2 separate regions of the Homo sapiens genome follow, and region 2 is linked to region 1. A link means that fine-mapping ties the variant in region 1 to the expression of a gene that starts in the linked region. Tissue or cell type: transverse colon. Region 1 holds a variant in brackets; the other region holds the start of a gene. All regions are shown on one strand. Distances are from middle to middle.

Region 1 (7,868 bases):
CAGGACCTCTATGATGTCATGCAGTGGTTTAGGGCCCAAGACCTCAGGTCTCACCTCCCTGGGCTGCCTGGGGTTCCTGCAGCAGCCACTGCCCTGCCCAATCCCTCCCATACCCCACCATGTTGGTGGGTACCCCCAACCTGCTGACACTGGATGAAGCTGATGCCACCTGGACCCTCATCAAGGATAAGGTAGGTAAAGTAAGGAGGCTAAAGAGGAAGCAACGAAGTGTGACCTGCATGGGTCTCAGCAGCTTGTGAGTAGGAAGGGGTGGGAAGTCTGAAAACAATAATAACCAACATTTACTCACTGCTTCCATATGTGCCAGGCACTGCAGTAAAGTTATTGGCACGAACCGCCCCATTTAATGACAACTACAAAAACAGTAAAAAAGGTTCACTGAAAAGCAACGTATAGGGAATTATGAGCAAAGAGGAGATACGCTAAGTCAGGGGTGAGACAGGAGATCAGGAAGGCTTCCTGGAAAGAGTGACATTCTAGCTAGGCAAGCAGGAGTTATTCACACAAAGAGGGAGAGGAGAACCTGACAAAAAGTGCTTAATAAATACCTGAATTAATGAGCATGGGAGGGTGGTGAGTGTATAGTAATTTAATAGTAATTAAATGTAGAGTATTTGTAAAAACAAGGAGAGGAAAAAGAACAACTCATATTTGAGAACTCCTAATAATCTTCTAGAGCAGAGTTCAAAGAAGCAGTGGTAAAAATAAAGCCAAAGAGATATAGGGGCTAGTCTTAGAACCAGGACTTCCTATAGAACCAGCTTCCTATAGAATCTGAACTTTATCTGAAACTCTTTCACAGATCTCCTCCACCTTAACTTCCACAAAATAAGAAATTTGGATTTTGAGGCAAATTTGTATATTTTAAGGAGCAGGACAATCTCAGCTGTATCTGGGTTGCAGATATCCAACAAATCCTACCAAATCACTTTTCAGCTGCAGACTGGAAATTTCAGATCAGAGAATTTAGAATCAGATTCTATGTGATTTGAAGGAAGGTGAATTTAAAACATTCATAGAAGTCAGCCTACCAGGCTTAAAAAAAAAAAAAATCTTAAAGCAGTGCCTACCACACTCAAAGAAGATTTAATGGCATGCTGCTTCCATTCCAAATAGGGTAGCTGCTTACCACAAAGGCCAGCTTCCCAGGGAAGCAAAAACTGGAGAGCTCAAGGTCTTCCCAAGTATTAGAGCAACTGGTTTCAGCAGTGTAGAAGGTTGGTCCTGGACTAGATCAAGCAGAATTAGATTGAAAATAAACAGTCTCCCACTATTAGAAAGCTATGCCATCTCTGAGTATCAGAAAAACTCACTATCCTATTTAAATTGAAAATTGTCAGGAAAATCGGGGTAGAGATATGCAGGATAAATCACTGGCATTACGGGGCAAATTCAAGGATTAGGTCACCTTTAAGTGACCTGGTTTCCTGTGTCCAAAACCACGGACAGTTTACTGAACATATGGTAAAAACATTTGGCTAAACAGAATGTGGCTCAAGAGCTCCACATTCAGAATTTGAAGCAACCAAGAGACATCTAGGAAAACAATATTCCACCATCACTTTCCTGGGATGCCCCTGGAAAACCTAAATTTGTGGGCCTAAGGTCCATATAATTTCTATGAAGAAGCAGAAGTTCAGTAGGAGCACATAGTAGTCTTAAATAGTGATTCTACCAAGAACACAGTCTCCCTAACAAAGAACCGAGCTCCTTATTTTTCCTATTTTAGGATAACCACTGTGGCTGTCAAGGTTAAGGAGGGTTAGAATTAGACAACTTAATGCCTGTCAGCATATAGGAAGAGCGTATGGGGAATAAAGAGCCTCCAGCTAAACCAGAGATTCACCCTTTTAGCAGAAACTTGGATAATAAGCACCAGATATATTAAATGTCACACTCCTATCAGAGGGGCCTCTTCTAGAGACACTCCCATTTGTCTTATTTGTGTAGGATCCTTGACACCAAAGGAGCAGTTAGTGTGAGATTCTGATGTCATGCTTGGTGCCTCTGATTTCATGGTCATGGGGCAAAGCATTGCATCCAAAAATGTCAACCCACCAGTGTTCTGCTCTCTCCCTGGAAACGCAACTGGTCCTTCTCAGAGCCCCACCCAAAAGGAAGTGTTTTCCAGTGAAGCAAAGGAGAAGGAATGATGGGAAACTGTCCCATGCAGACCACAAAAGAACATCAGTTATTCCTTCAGCCAGGTGACAAGACAGTAGTCTACAAGCTACCTCAGCTTATCCAAGGTGCAGATGCAACTCCATAGTTAGCTACCTTCCTCTTATGCTAGGAGGCAGTACTTCCAAAACAGCTTTGTAGAAAAAGCAGATCAGCCTTAAGGAGCCACTGGTGAATTCTACCAGAAGGCCAACAAAGAGGGCAATGCCATCAGTAGGGGCATAGATGTGCGAAATTTGGTCCTGGAGGTAGGGAGTAGAGTACAGCACTGTAAGCACTGGGCTCAAATATAAGAGATGCCCAAAGAGGAAATTCTGTGTGCCCTTGCTCCCTAGTAGAGCAGAGAACCAGAAACATCAGCCACAAAATCCTGAATGGGTTGAAACCATACTTAAGTACAATTACTAGAGAGGCTCTTATAGGTTTCCCAATTAGTCATGAAATAAACTTTCCAGGGTTACCAACCCCAAAAAGGCCATGATGAAACAAACAAACAAACAAACAAACAAACCACACACACACACACACGATTAACTAAAATCCCTGAAAGTATACCGTAACTAACATTATAAAGATGAGGCCTCAAATTCCCTACAAGAACTACCCCTTGCAGCTAGGGTAGAAGGCATATACTATGAGGTAAGAGATATGGTATAAGAATGGACATTCCAAATCTATTTCTGCGTAACCTACTATTGATTAAAGACATCACCCATGTAACCAGTCACCTAAGAAGAATCCTTAAAGATTCTTTTCTCTTTTTCTTGAGACTCTGTGGAGTGCAGTGGTGCCATCTCGGCTCACTGCAACCTCCGCTTCCCAGGTTCAAGCAATTCTCCTGCCTCAGTATCATGAGTAGCTGGGATTACAGGCGTGTGCCACCACACCCAGCTAATTTTTCTATTTTTAGTAGAGACAGGGTTTCACCATGTTGGTCAGGATGGTCTCCAACTCCTGACCTCAGGTGATCCACCTGTCTCGGCCTCCCAAAGTGCTGGGATTATAGGCATGAGCCAGGGTGCACAGCCGAGGATTCTTTTTTCCCTACCTCCTGAGTGACTAAGTTCTACTAATTCTATAACCTAAATATCTCTAATATCTTCCCTCACTATTTTAGTTCAGGACCTTATTATGCCTTGCCTGGAGTATTGCAATACTCTTATTTTATGACTTCCTATTAAAAATTAGCTTTCTGGCCAGGCGCGGTGGCTCACATCTGTAATCTCAACACTTTGGGAGGCTGAGGCAGGCGGACTGCCTGAGCTCAGGAGTTCAAAACCAGCCTGGGCAACAGAGTGAAACCCCATCTCTACTAAAAATACAAAAAACTAACCAGGTGTGGTGGTGGGTGCCTGTAGTTCCAGCTACTTGGGAGGCTGAGCCAGGACAATCACTTGAACCCAGGAGGCAGAGGTTTCAGTGAGCCGAGATCGCACCACTGTACTCCAGCCTAGGCGACGAAGGAGAACCGACTCAAAAAAAAAAAAAAAAAAAAAATTAGCTTTCAGAAACACCTATCTGATCCTGTTCCTCCTACCCAGAGGCCTTCAGGCGGCTTCCCACTGCCTTCAGGACAAAATTCACTTGACATACACACAAGCCTTTCATAATCTAGTTCCTGTGTGCCTTTCCCTCCTCATACCATACATACCAGCAATATAAAATTATGTGTTCCTAAATGTGCCCCCCTTGATTTGTAAATTCAAGTTTTTTCACCGACTCTTATGCCTGAATTGACCATTCTCCTACCTAGATAATTGCTTCAAAACTCAAGTATCACCATCTAGAAACCTTCCTTGATCCTCTTTCCATGAAAGGTAAAGACTGTTCAATCACTTCCTGTCTCCTTCACACCTTGCTCTCTATTAATATTTTACATAGCAGACTGTTTACATTTTTGTGTTCTCCAGTAGACTAAACTATATTAGGACAAAGACAAAGTCTCATTCTTTTATGTTTTCCCAGTACTTAGATAGTTTGACACGTAAACATTCAAGGTTTTGCTGCCGGAGAGCTGGGAGGTAAGCAGAAAGCATAAATCTGAACACATTATAGAGATGTAACTGAACGTGAACCTGGGGGTCAATTTAAAGTAGGCAACCAGTTAACTTCTGACCCTAAGTCCCTGACCTATAAACTGGCCACCTGCAGGTCATCGAGGAGCACTTTGGGCCCAATGCAGTAGCAGTACCTTTCCTGTCAGATGCAGCCTGCTATGACCTACTGGGTGTGCTGGTAAAACAGTCCCGCCCAGCCCATACCCGCCTGGCTTTGCCAGGTCGGCAGGGCCGGAGGGCACTGAAACCAGTGGGGCCACTACCAAGCCTCCTGGAGCAGGCAGGATCTGAGGGTGCCTTCGCCCACTGCACTCGGGAATACTCACCAAATGGCCGAGCAGAGAGAGCCTATGAAGAGACGCGAATGTTGGATGGACAGCCCTGCAAGATCCGCCTACATATGGGTGACCTGCGCAAGAAGGTTGCCTTCCTGTTGCTGCCACCAGGGCAGGTGAGCCTACAGCAGACTCTTCCCTGGCTCCGAAGCACCCACAGCATCTATGTCATCTACCAGGTCTTCTCTTGTTCCTGGCTGCAGCTGGGGCTGACGTCTACAGCCCGTGAGCCCCAGCTCCTCCGGCTACTTCGGTCATTACCTGTTGCCTTCTCCTGCCTCAAGTTTTCACTGCAGTCTAAGGGCGTGCTGGGACCACAGAAGCCTCTCACTAAAGACCCATTGCCCCATGGGGCCAACTGGGTCAGACCCAACCTCAGCATCATGCCGCCTCTGGCCCCCACATCAGCACCTGCTGATACAACTGAAGCTGCTGATGTGCCCCCACCTGTCCCAGCCCCACCTACGCCACCTCCCCAGGAAGGGCCAGAGGACAAACCCACCAGATTCTCCTACAAGGGCCGAAACCCCTTCTGGAGGGGGCCCCAGATACTGTCAGGTACTACTAGGGGAAATGATGATGAGATGGATGGGAGGGACAAAGTGAAGGAGGGAGAAGGCATGAGAATTAAGTATGTGAGGAATCCATTACTCAGCACAGGGCTCTGGTGAAAGAGATGGAATGAGGGAGACTGGGGAGGGTGAGATGGAATGAGGAGGCCCTAGGAAGGGGATTGGGATGGCACAGAGGACCAGAGGGAAAAGCTAGGGGGGGAAAAGACCAGCCATGAGTCAAGCTGTGACTATCCCCAACCCTGGCAGAGAACTGGCTCTTCAGCCCCCGCAGCCCTCCACCAGGAGCCCAGGGTGGGGGCCCCAGGGACCCCGACGGGCACTCCATGTCCCTGCCCCTGCTGCAGGGTCTATCCTCAGAGTTCGACAGTGACGACTGAAGCTGAAGCAAAAGATTCCGGGGGCAAAGCCCCCAAGATCTGGCATAGGGGTACTGGTCTCTAATAAACATCAGCTGCTGCTCCCCCAAACCATCCTGGGCCCATGCTGCTTATTCCTTCTGGGATCCAGAGAAGAGGGAAGAGTCCCTTCACCCTCTAAGGGCATAAGGGGTACCTTGAAACCTTGGCAGCAATGTCCTTACCAAAGAGAAAATACTTCTGACCACCTCCCCGACTATGTACAACCTTTTCTGGGGCCCCAGCCCCACAGAAAAAAATGGGAAAGAAAAATGAGCACAGAATAGAGATTTCCCTTTTATACATATTGCAACAAGTTCTCCATAAAACATTCATCTGAAATAAATTAAAAAGTCCTTTTG[C/T]CACTGCCTCCAAACATAAAAAGGAGCCTGTGCCCTAGCCCCAGCCCGGGCCACCCATGGCCCTGATTGTCCATGGAAGAAAGTTAAGGATTGAGGGGCCCACAGCCTGAGATGAGAGGGCCAGATCCTTCCTCTGAAGTCTCCAACAAGAAAGGCGAGGTGACGGCATGAGCCTGGGAGATGGCAGCCAACTCCTTGAGAAATTCAGGGAAAATGACTGCACAGTAGACAGCATTCTTGACTCGAAGAGCCTCACCTTGGCGTTCAGGGGCCCCGCCCCGGGTGAGTAGAACTGGAGTTGAAGCCCCAGGGGAGCCCCCACTTAGGCCAAGTCCTGCTCCGTCTCGCCCAGGCTGAAGGACCAATTGTGCCGCCTGCCGGGCCCTGGTTGGACTGTGTGCATGCCGCAGGAGTAACTCCCCCAAGGATGGCCTCCGGCTCTTCACTGGGAATAAACAGGGGTATCATGAAGGTGCTGGGATCAGGGAACCTCCCTTGGACTGAGAGGGGAGATTCCCCCACCCCCTAGGTTCTTGGACTTCTCCTTTAGGGTTCTGAGGAAATGGAAAAAAGGACAAAATGGACCAGAAATGAACCTCAGGTACCATTTCCTGTCCCATCCCTGAAGTTGACTCTGAGGAGTAGAGTGAGGAGTTCTTTCTCACTCCAACACCAAAAATACTGCCTGCCCAGCCTTTTTCCCTCTATCCAGCCTCCCCACCCAGCCAACCATCCTTCTCAGTCTTAATCAATCAACACTTTAGCCACTTCATTCCCAGTTAAGATCCATTCCTTCTCCATGCCCTCTCACCCTGACGAATTCTCCTATTTCCAATCACTAATCTACCACCACCAAGCTATTTCTCCTCTGTCTATAGCATGCCCTGATTTCATGCTTCCCATCACCCTTCCGAACTAGTCAACCACTTCCCTCTTCCCCAGCCTATCTATAACACCCAACCCACATCCTCTGCTCCTACAATATCCACAGGGGCTATATATGCAATTATAGTTCAGTGACAATTTCACTTCTGTCATGCTCTACTGTCCCTCCAAAATATGCTCTTCACCATTCACCACTTCACCATTCACCAGTCCCTGTCCTGCACCAAAGCCTCTCTCCCACTGGTTGCGGCCAATTTCAAGTCAGCTTAGGCTCAAGTGAGCCATTCAAAACAACGTCCTCTTGCCTCTAACATTCTGCCTAGATTTCTGGGTCTGGATCCATATCTACTATAAAGGCCTAGATCATAATAACAATTCCCATTTCCTACATCTAATACTGGCTACAGAAATACCATACCGAGCTATTAAATTTGGCATTCAGAGCCCTTCACAATCAGGCTCACACTCCTCCTACAATTTCTTTTCAAACTCTCCACACCCCACCTTGCTTTTGCATCCACATCTATCATCTTGGAACCCTTCAGGCACTTTTCATGCGCCTGTAGCTCCCTCTGCCTAAATTTTCTTTTCTCCACTTTTTTCATCATTCTACGTGAAATTTTACTATCCCCACTTCTCTAGGAAGCCTCCTCTGATTTGTCTTCCACTGACTCCCAATTTTACTTCCCTTAACTCAACATACTTAATTTATTTCTATGTCTTCTACCTCATACACTAACCTGTGAACTTAAGGGCCTAGACTGTGTCTTGTCTACCTTGTCTACCTGGCCCCTCTAAAGTGACCCCAGCACCAGAACTGTAGAAGGAAGAAATATTCACAATACTAGACCATGAAGAAACCATGCAAAAGAACTTTACCTGAGACTTCACAGCTGTGCAGTAACTTTTATGGTACTCTCTTCCCAACCCATACACTTTTCTCATTAAGCCTCCATCTCTGCTTTCAGCATATCATTTTGCCTTCTACTTCGATTAGTAAATAATGAATGATGTGAAATCCCTTACTCCTCTACACTTCACAACTACATTGGCACAT
Region 2 (7,936 bases), 24 kb after region 1:
TGCTCCACCACTTGACCAACAAAGGGTACTGCTCATGGAACCAAGGAAGATTAGCCTCCAGGACCCTTCCTCACCCACCTGCCCACCGCAGTTCTACAATCCCATTTCAAAGACCTCAAGAGAAGATGTTGGAATCAGCATCTCAGATTCCAAAAGCCAATACTTAAACTGGGCCCTGTTCACATACAACAAAAGCATAAAAGAAAGCTATAGTTTGGTATTCCTATCACCTAATTAGACTCTCTGCAATGTTCAGAACAAGACAAAGAAAAGGTTAAAATCACCACCCTCTCATGGTGTCCTTTCCTCCCATAGCAAAGTCCAAAAAAAAAAAAAAAAAGCAGAACCTGCCACTCTCCAGATTTACCTTCAGGCTCAGCCACAGAGTAAAAAGGGGAACGAGCTGATCTCTCAGACCCAAAATGGCCAAGATCAGGCACTCACCTTATAGCCCAAAATACAGCCTTACAGCCACACACAGCAAGGGTGACAACCAACCTCGGAACTGCAGATACAGGGCAGGAAGTGGCTCAGCCTCACTTATGAACCTTTGCCCTGGGAGAGGCAAAGAGGAGGGAGCTGGGGGAAGGGATATACCTGCAACACCTACATTGGACAGAGAGACCAAAATGATCTTCCAAGAACAGGTCAGTAAAATTCTGTGGTGTCTCTCTCCTTACAGTGGCTCTTCCTAGGCAAGAAGACTAATTACTGACATAAGGAGGATGAATGGGCTGTTACCCTAAATACTGGAAGTTGAATGACCTGATTAAAATCTCATAGAAATACAAAGGGAAAAACCAACCAACCAAAAACACCACCTACTAGGAATTTATACTAGAGCTCAGCTTACACATTTCTTCCCTGCTTTTCCATCCCTCAGACAAATGGGATGTCAGGGTATGGTCCCAACTCATTCCCTTCCCTCCCCGCAATATCACTTCTGCTTCTTGCAGGGATCTCCTCATCTGACTCCAGCGGGGTCCATCCAATTCACAAAAGTGAACCTCTATTCTACAGTGACTCCTCTTTACAGCAATGAATCCTCATGTCACACACAGTTATCTCTACCTTGACAGAGATGTCAAAAAGGAGGTGAAACTGAACTAGATCCTAAAGGATAAGGAAAGTTCACTGGGCAGAGAAGAAAAGGCATTCCTAGTAGAGGAAGCAGCTATTACAAAGATTTCAAGGCTCAAAAAAGCAGCATGGTTTTAGGGAACTGTGAACAATTTATTCAAACTAGAATACAGACTAGGGAGTGGCACACGAGACTGGAGAGGTAAGCTGAAGCTAAATGATGCCATATTAAGAAATTTGGATGTTGTCCTACAGGACACAAAGAGCCAAAAGTTTTTAAGCCAAGGAGTTCGGAGATCAGATGTGTATTTTCAGAAAAATCATTCTAGGGATGGACCAGAAAATAGCAAGTTTTAAGACAAAAAATTGTTTTAAAAAAATCATATGAGGTGAGGGGGAGCTAAACTAAAGCTTTGACAGTGAAGATGTAGCAATGGAGATATAGAGAAGAGAGATAACACAGAGCGAAATGTATTAAGATTCTAGCAAATGATTGAATGCAGGGAGTAAAAGAGCAGAAAGTATGAAAGATGACAATGTAGTCCTTGCCTGGAGTGAGATAGGGGATATGAGGGCAAAGTCGGGCTTTTGGGGCAAAGACTATGAATTCTGTTTTGGACATGTTAATTTTGAGATACTTGTGGAGATACACAGATCAATAAACATGTATACTTGGAATACAGGGAAAGATGACACTAGATACAAAGGAGTAATCAACTCATTATGATATATTTTCTTTTTTTTTTTTTTTTTTTTCTTGAGGTGGGGCCTCTGTCACCCAGGCTGAAGTGCAGTGGTGTGACCTCATCTCACTGCAACCTCTGCCTCCCAGGCTCAAGCAATCCTCCCACCTCAGCCTCCGGAGTAGCCAGGACCACAAGTATGTGCAACCACACCTGGCTAATTTTTGGTGGGTTTTTTTGGTGGTGGTTTTATTGTCGTTGTTGTTGTTGTTTTGGTAGAGGCAGGGTTTCAAAATGTTGCCCAGGTTGGTCTCAAACTCCTGAAGTCAAGCGATCTGCCTGCCTCAGCCTCCCAAAATGCTAGGCGTGAGCCACTACGCCCAGCCTATTATGATATATTTTCACATTTCACATTATCTCTCTAAATTGAAATTATGTTTTCATGTGTCTCTCTCTCCCTACTAGACTGAAAATCCCTTGAGAGCTCGGATGACCATGTTTTATTCATGTTGTTATCCCATAAAATGTGAGCATCACAAGCACAGACTATATGTTGAAGAAGTATTTGTTGAATGAATAAACGAATTCATTCTCCTAGCACTTAGTAGAGTGCCTGGCACAGAGCAGATATGGAATAAATGATTAACACAGTACCCTAAACATGTTTCTATCTCTACATCATCATCCTCATGTATGTTTCATCCTCTCAGAACTACCACTCACTATATGATACAAATCAAAATCCATTATACTTAATGCACTACTATTTCAACAGAGTTTGGGATAGCAAACAATAAGCTTACCAAATCCAGTGCTTTCTCCATTATAACAAGGATTTAGACAGTCCCTAAGAACCATCTAATATTTGATTTGATTCATCCTATCACTATCATGATATGATCCACTATCAAGATGTGATCCAGGTATTATATATACCTGTTCCAATGTCACTGCGACAGCATTAAACATAACCTTCATCCCTATGTCACTCTCACAGTCCCTTTTCTGTCTTTTGGAAATAGAACAATTACAAATCATTAAAAAATCCTCCCACATCACCTTCAGTGTCTATTATAAATCTTCTTTCCCAAAGTCTCTCTCACTCTGAGACAAAATTCTGGGTTCAGCCTTGCCACTGTATCCCTGTATGATCTCTGGCTACTGAATTTAATTTCTCATCTATAAAATGAAAGTTCCTGTCTTTGTCTACAAGGTATCTATATAAATCAGTATAATAAAATTTGAAATCCCTATGTAAAGCATGAATGCTGTTCAGATGTTAAGTTATACAGAATCATTGTATAAATGTATGCTTCCTCAACCTAATACAACAGCCACACCATCATCACTTTAAATTTCTGAAGTTCATAAAGCTATAGAAATAATTTTTAAAATTAAAAATTGGGTTGACACTTTTTATTTGGGTAAATTAGATCTTTTTTTTTTTAACCCACCATCTACTGTTACCATTACTGCATCAACGAAAGAGCACTGCAACACCAAAAGAATAGGAATGATAATCTCTGAGAATAAATTTATCTTCATGAATAACCATACTGTCTTTCTCTCCCTCCATCTTGGATAGATGATAATTTTATCATGTACAGGGTCCTTGGTCCAGTGTTTAGGAACCACTACTCTAAACTCTGAACTGTAAGTTCTGACTGACTGGGCAAGTTGCCAAGTGTTCTACCAATATGGAGGCCTGTCTGGACTCCAGAAAGAAGCAATGAGAATATACCACAGGATATAGGAGTTGGCTCTGAAGCTAAGACTCTGGAAAAGAATGGGGACTGAGGCTGTCTAATTCTCAGGAAATGGTCTCTCCCTGTCCACTGTAGAGTTAAGGAAAGACTTAACTCTTTCTGAGTCTGGAAAGAATAGGATGTCCCAACCCCATGGCTGACTAGCAGTAGAGAGGAAAATTTAGTAGTGTGAAAGTGGCCATTATCACTGAATGCCAAACCAACTTTCCAGAATTTCACGTGCATTTGGGTTGGTGGGGAGAAGAGGACCTAAAAGAATGCTAGTAAGATGAACCCAACTACAGGGTGTGGAGAGGAAGAGATAAATTTTCAGGTGGCTAAAATGTTCAGTATCTTGAGACTGATGATGATTTCACAGATGTGTACACATGTCAAAACTCATCAAACACACATTTTAAATATAATATAAACTAGCTTTTTAAAAAATTCAACTGTAAGAAAGGAGAGTAAGGCCATCCTGTTTGGGATCCTAAATATAGTACTGTATAGGGCAAACCATATGACCTCCATAAAAGTAGAATTAGCAACTGAATATGGTCAATCCAATCAAAGACCCACAGTTAAGCACAGGTAAGGAGCAACAGTGGAATAAGGTTGTCCAGAAGCAAGTAGAGAGAAAACACAAGCTGTCACAGCGCAAAACCCTTCATGAGAGGGCCCATCTTCAACTATGCAGTCCAGAGAAGGAACTCGAAGGAACTGAAGTTTCTGTGATTACTCTGTTGAAGTCTGAGCCTCAAATATGACTTTCATTACCATAGTACTATTGCCTATGACACCTTCATTTTCTCGTCCTCCAGAATATGGAAAGTCCATGGGAGCAGAGGAGTCAGGTGCACAACACTTCCATCTAAGCTGCCCTACTTTGTCTAAAACTATTGCTCTCACTGGACAGGGCAGTCCATCGAAGGAGGCCTCAGAACCAACCTCTCACCTTTATCCAAGTCTCACAAGCCCTAATTCCCTCCTCCCATGCCTCGCCTTCAACTCCCTCACCAATTTGCCGCCACCCCGCAGGCTCCCACCTGCGCCTTTTACTCTCTCTCTCCTCGCGCAGGCCTTACCCCTCACTCTAGTCCCAGGGTATCCTTCACACCAGCCCTCAGTAGCCCCAGCCCTAGTAAACCGCGTTCAGGAGTCCCTTCAACTTGGCACCTCCGAAAGCACCCAGCCTCTCACAGCCCCTCATTTGTCCACTCACCTGTAAGCTCTCACCCTCCTTCCCTATCTTAGACACTCACACCCGGACCCTCACCACCTGCCAACCCCTCACAACCAGTACAGTAACCAAACCCGTCACCGTCTTTTCCCAGTCTCTCATCCCCACAAACGACTCTCCAGGCCCTCTGGCCCATGCGTACCGTTCACTCACGGAACGCCGAACCTGGCCGGGCCCGGTTGCTGCTGCGGTGTTAGGTGAGTTCAGGCCGCCGCCATCGCTTCTCAAGCGCACCAGCCGCGCCCCGCCCCGCGCCACACGCAGCCCGCGCCCCCGCGCACCACACGCAACCGCCCGGCGTCGCACGACTGGGCAATGGCGTGCCAGCTCATTGGCTGAGCCGGACCAAACCCGAGCAAGGACGCTTGTTTCCTGGCAACGGCTAAACGCAAGGGCGGGGTCGCCGACGGCTATCCGAGGGAGGAGCACCGCCTCTCCTCTTGGTTCCGTCCCTTCGTACGTAAACCCCGCCCCTCAGAAGGACTCCGGCGTGTCATAGGCGAAGGCCTCTGGGAAGGTGGAGGCCGGCAGGGCGGAGGCGGAGCCCGGGAAGGAAAGGTGGAACCAGAGGGCAGAAGGCGGGACCTAAGGAGAGGCGATTTTTACAGGCAGGGAAAGATCAGAAGGGCGGGGCTTGGGAGAGATGGAGCCGGAAGAAAGACGAGCGAGAAAGGGGTGGGGCCATGGATTCCAGGAGACGCTTGGAGTGGAAGAGTGGGTGTGGAGGGGCGAGGCTATCACGAAAAGAGAGGAGGAATCAGTAGGTGGGCCGGGCCTGCGGAAAAGTGGAGCCCTAGAGAGGGCTGACTGCGGGCACTCTAGTTCATTTTGCTCCATCGTCGTGCATAGCTTGGTCTCTACTTTAGTACCCCAGCGGTGACTGCCCCTGGCTCCCCCAACACCGCTGTGCTGTGCTGCTCCGTCACCCCTTGAGCACTTAGTCAAGGAACACGGAATAAGTGCCTGCATGCCCAGCTGGATTCCGGATCAATTAGAACCGGCCTCTGCTCTCCAGGACCTCAGAGAATTGCAGCGTAGTGTAATAAGTACATTACTACGGGGGCCACCTAGGAGCAGCACTTAGCATGATTTGCATGTATAGAGGATGAGAGGAAGGTACGGTGAAGGAGCTTAGGGAAGACTTCCGGGAGGTGACGGTGTCTAAGCCGAGTCTTGGGAAACAAGCAAGAGTAAGATAAACTAAAATAGAAAAATAGAAGTTTCAGATAAGGCATGTAGTTTTAAAAGTACTTTACCGGCTGGGCGCGGTGGCTCACGCCTGTAATCCCAGCACTTTGAGAGGCCGAGGCGGGCGGATCACGAGGTCAAGAGTTCGAGACCAGCCTGACCAACATAGTGAAACCCCGTCCCTACTACAAATACAAAAATTAACTGGGCGTAGTGGCGCGCGCCTGTAATCCCAGCTGCTTGGGAGGCTGGGGCAGGAGAATCGCTTGAACCCGGGAGGCGGAGGTTGCAGTTAGCCGAGATCGCACCACTGCATTCCAGCCTGGGCGACAGGGCGAGACTCCGTCTCAAAAAAAAAAAAAGAAAAGAAAAAAAGAAAAGTATTTTGCCAATGTTAAATACCTGGTTTTTATCATTGTGCTATAGTTATGTAAGATCATAACGTTAGGGGAAGATGGATAAGGAATTTATGAGAACTCTGTATTATTTTTGCAACTTTTCTGTAAGCCTAAAATTAGTTCAAATAAAAAGTATTTAAAAAGAAATAGAAGTTTCAGACCAAAGGATCAGCATATACCAGGGAAAGGAAGAATGGACAGCATGTGGGAGGTGCTGTAAGAACTGCAATCAGTACAGTGTGTCGGGAGCCTAGGGAACATGTGAGGAAACATTGTGAGATGAGGCTGAAGACATGGACTGGAGAACTTTATAAACCATGTTAAGGAATTTAGATTTTATTTTTGGGATGATAGCTATAAAGAATTTTATACATAGATTGATAGTTATACAGTAACTTTGCAAAAGACCAAACAAGCTGATAAGGCCCAAACTAGAGTAGCAAAAATGCAGAGAAGTGGACATGTGGATTTTTAGAAGGTAGATCACCATGGTTTGATGATTGGGTGGATATAAGAGGAAAATAAGAGGAAGAATTAAAAACTAATGCTTAGTTTATATAAATTCAAAAACAGGTAAAACTAAACTGTGATATTAGAATTCAGGATAGTGATTATTCTTGGAAAAACATTGACTGAAAGGGGCAGAGTGGGGCTCCTGAGGCACTGGTGATGTTCTGTTTCTTGATCTGAGTGCTTGGTTATATGGGTGTGTTCACTTTGTGAAAATGTATTAAGCTATATACTTAAGGATTGTACACCTTTCTCTGTGTTTGTTTGTTCTGGTTACTATGCTATGTGACAAACCAACCCAAACTTAGTGTCATAAAAACAATAGCCATTTTATTATGTGCACAAATTCTGGGAATTTGGACGAGATGCAACAGGAATGGCTTGTCTCTATTCCATGATGTCTGGGGCCTTATTTGTAAAGCTTGAACATCTAGAGGTGGTTTGAGGCTGGTGGCTGGAAGCATCTGGAGGCTTCTTCAGTCACACATCTAATTCCTGGGCTGGGATAATGAAAAAGCTGAACTCATTGGGCAAACTGTCAAACAGAACTTCTCACAATGTGATGGGTAGGTTCCAAGAGGGAACATTCTGAGAGGGAGCTACCAGACAACACGCATTCCAAGAGAACCAGAGGGAAGCTGCATGGCCTTTTATGATCTAGCCTTAGAAGTCACACAACATCACTCCTGCTATACAAACTATCACAAGGGAGTGGTGTCGAAGAATTTGTGACCATTTTTTTTAACTGCCACAACATTATACAGTAAATAGTAATAAATGCTTGTCATAGGTTTTTTTGCTGAAAGGGCATAGATAGGAATTCTAGAAGAAAAAGTGGAGGAAGATAATGAGCTTAGTTATAGACCCAATGGGTTGAAGGTGACCGCGGGATACCCAAGTAGGAACATCCAGTGAGCAGTTAGTCATATAGATAACTGAAACTCAGGGAGAGTTCTCGGGAGCCACTATATGAGAAAGGAAGTCCTGTGGGTGACTGACGTCAATCAGACAGAGTTAGGAGGATGGCAAAAGTAGAAAGCCTAGAACAGAATCCAAGAAAAAAAAAAAACACCATCATAGAAGGAATAGACA

Alleles and levels. Alleles are on the strand shown, and positions count from the first base shown. SD is a standard deviation of normalised expression in the study named.
In carriers of allele T in region 1, the expression in transverse colon of the gene that starts at base 4,983 in region 2 tends to be higher than with C alone (moderate effect, 0.50 SD a copy in GTEx).

What was found. PIP is the estimated chance that this variant, and not a neighbour inherited with it, causes the effect.
Region 2: FHIP1B starts here. The variant in region 1 is the best candidate, but not a certain one, in a credible set for the expression of FHIP1B in transverse colon (GTEx, PIP 0.79).

The regions. Positions count from the first base shown.
Region 1 is chr11:6,205,497-6,213,364 of GRCh38, forward strand. It overlaps C11orf42 (chromosome 11 open reading frame 42), which reads left to right and starts at 61. Exons shown (of 3, transcript NM_173525.3): 1 at 61-191; 2 at 4,354-5,152; 3 at 5,416-5,639. The coding sequence starts at 120. The coding sequence ends at 5,546. FHIP1B (FHF complex subunit HOOK interacting protein 1B) reads right to left here. Exons shown (of 12, transcript NM_001098794.2): 12 at 5,849-6,371. The coding sequence ends at 6,010. The variant C/T (reference allele first, on the strand shown) is at 5,927.
Region 2 is chr11:6,229,654-6,237,589 of GRCh38, forward strand. It overlaps FHIP1B (FHF complex subunit HOOK interacting protein 1B), which reads right to left and starts at 4,983. Exons shown (of 12, transcript NM_001098794.2): 1 at 4,891-4,983. It also overlaps a transcript of CNGA4 not described here. RefSeq lists silencers at 4,658-4,707, 4,888-5,187 and enhancers at 5,230-5,920, 5,318-5,397.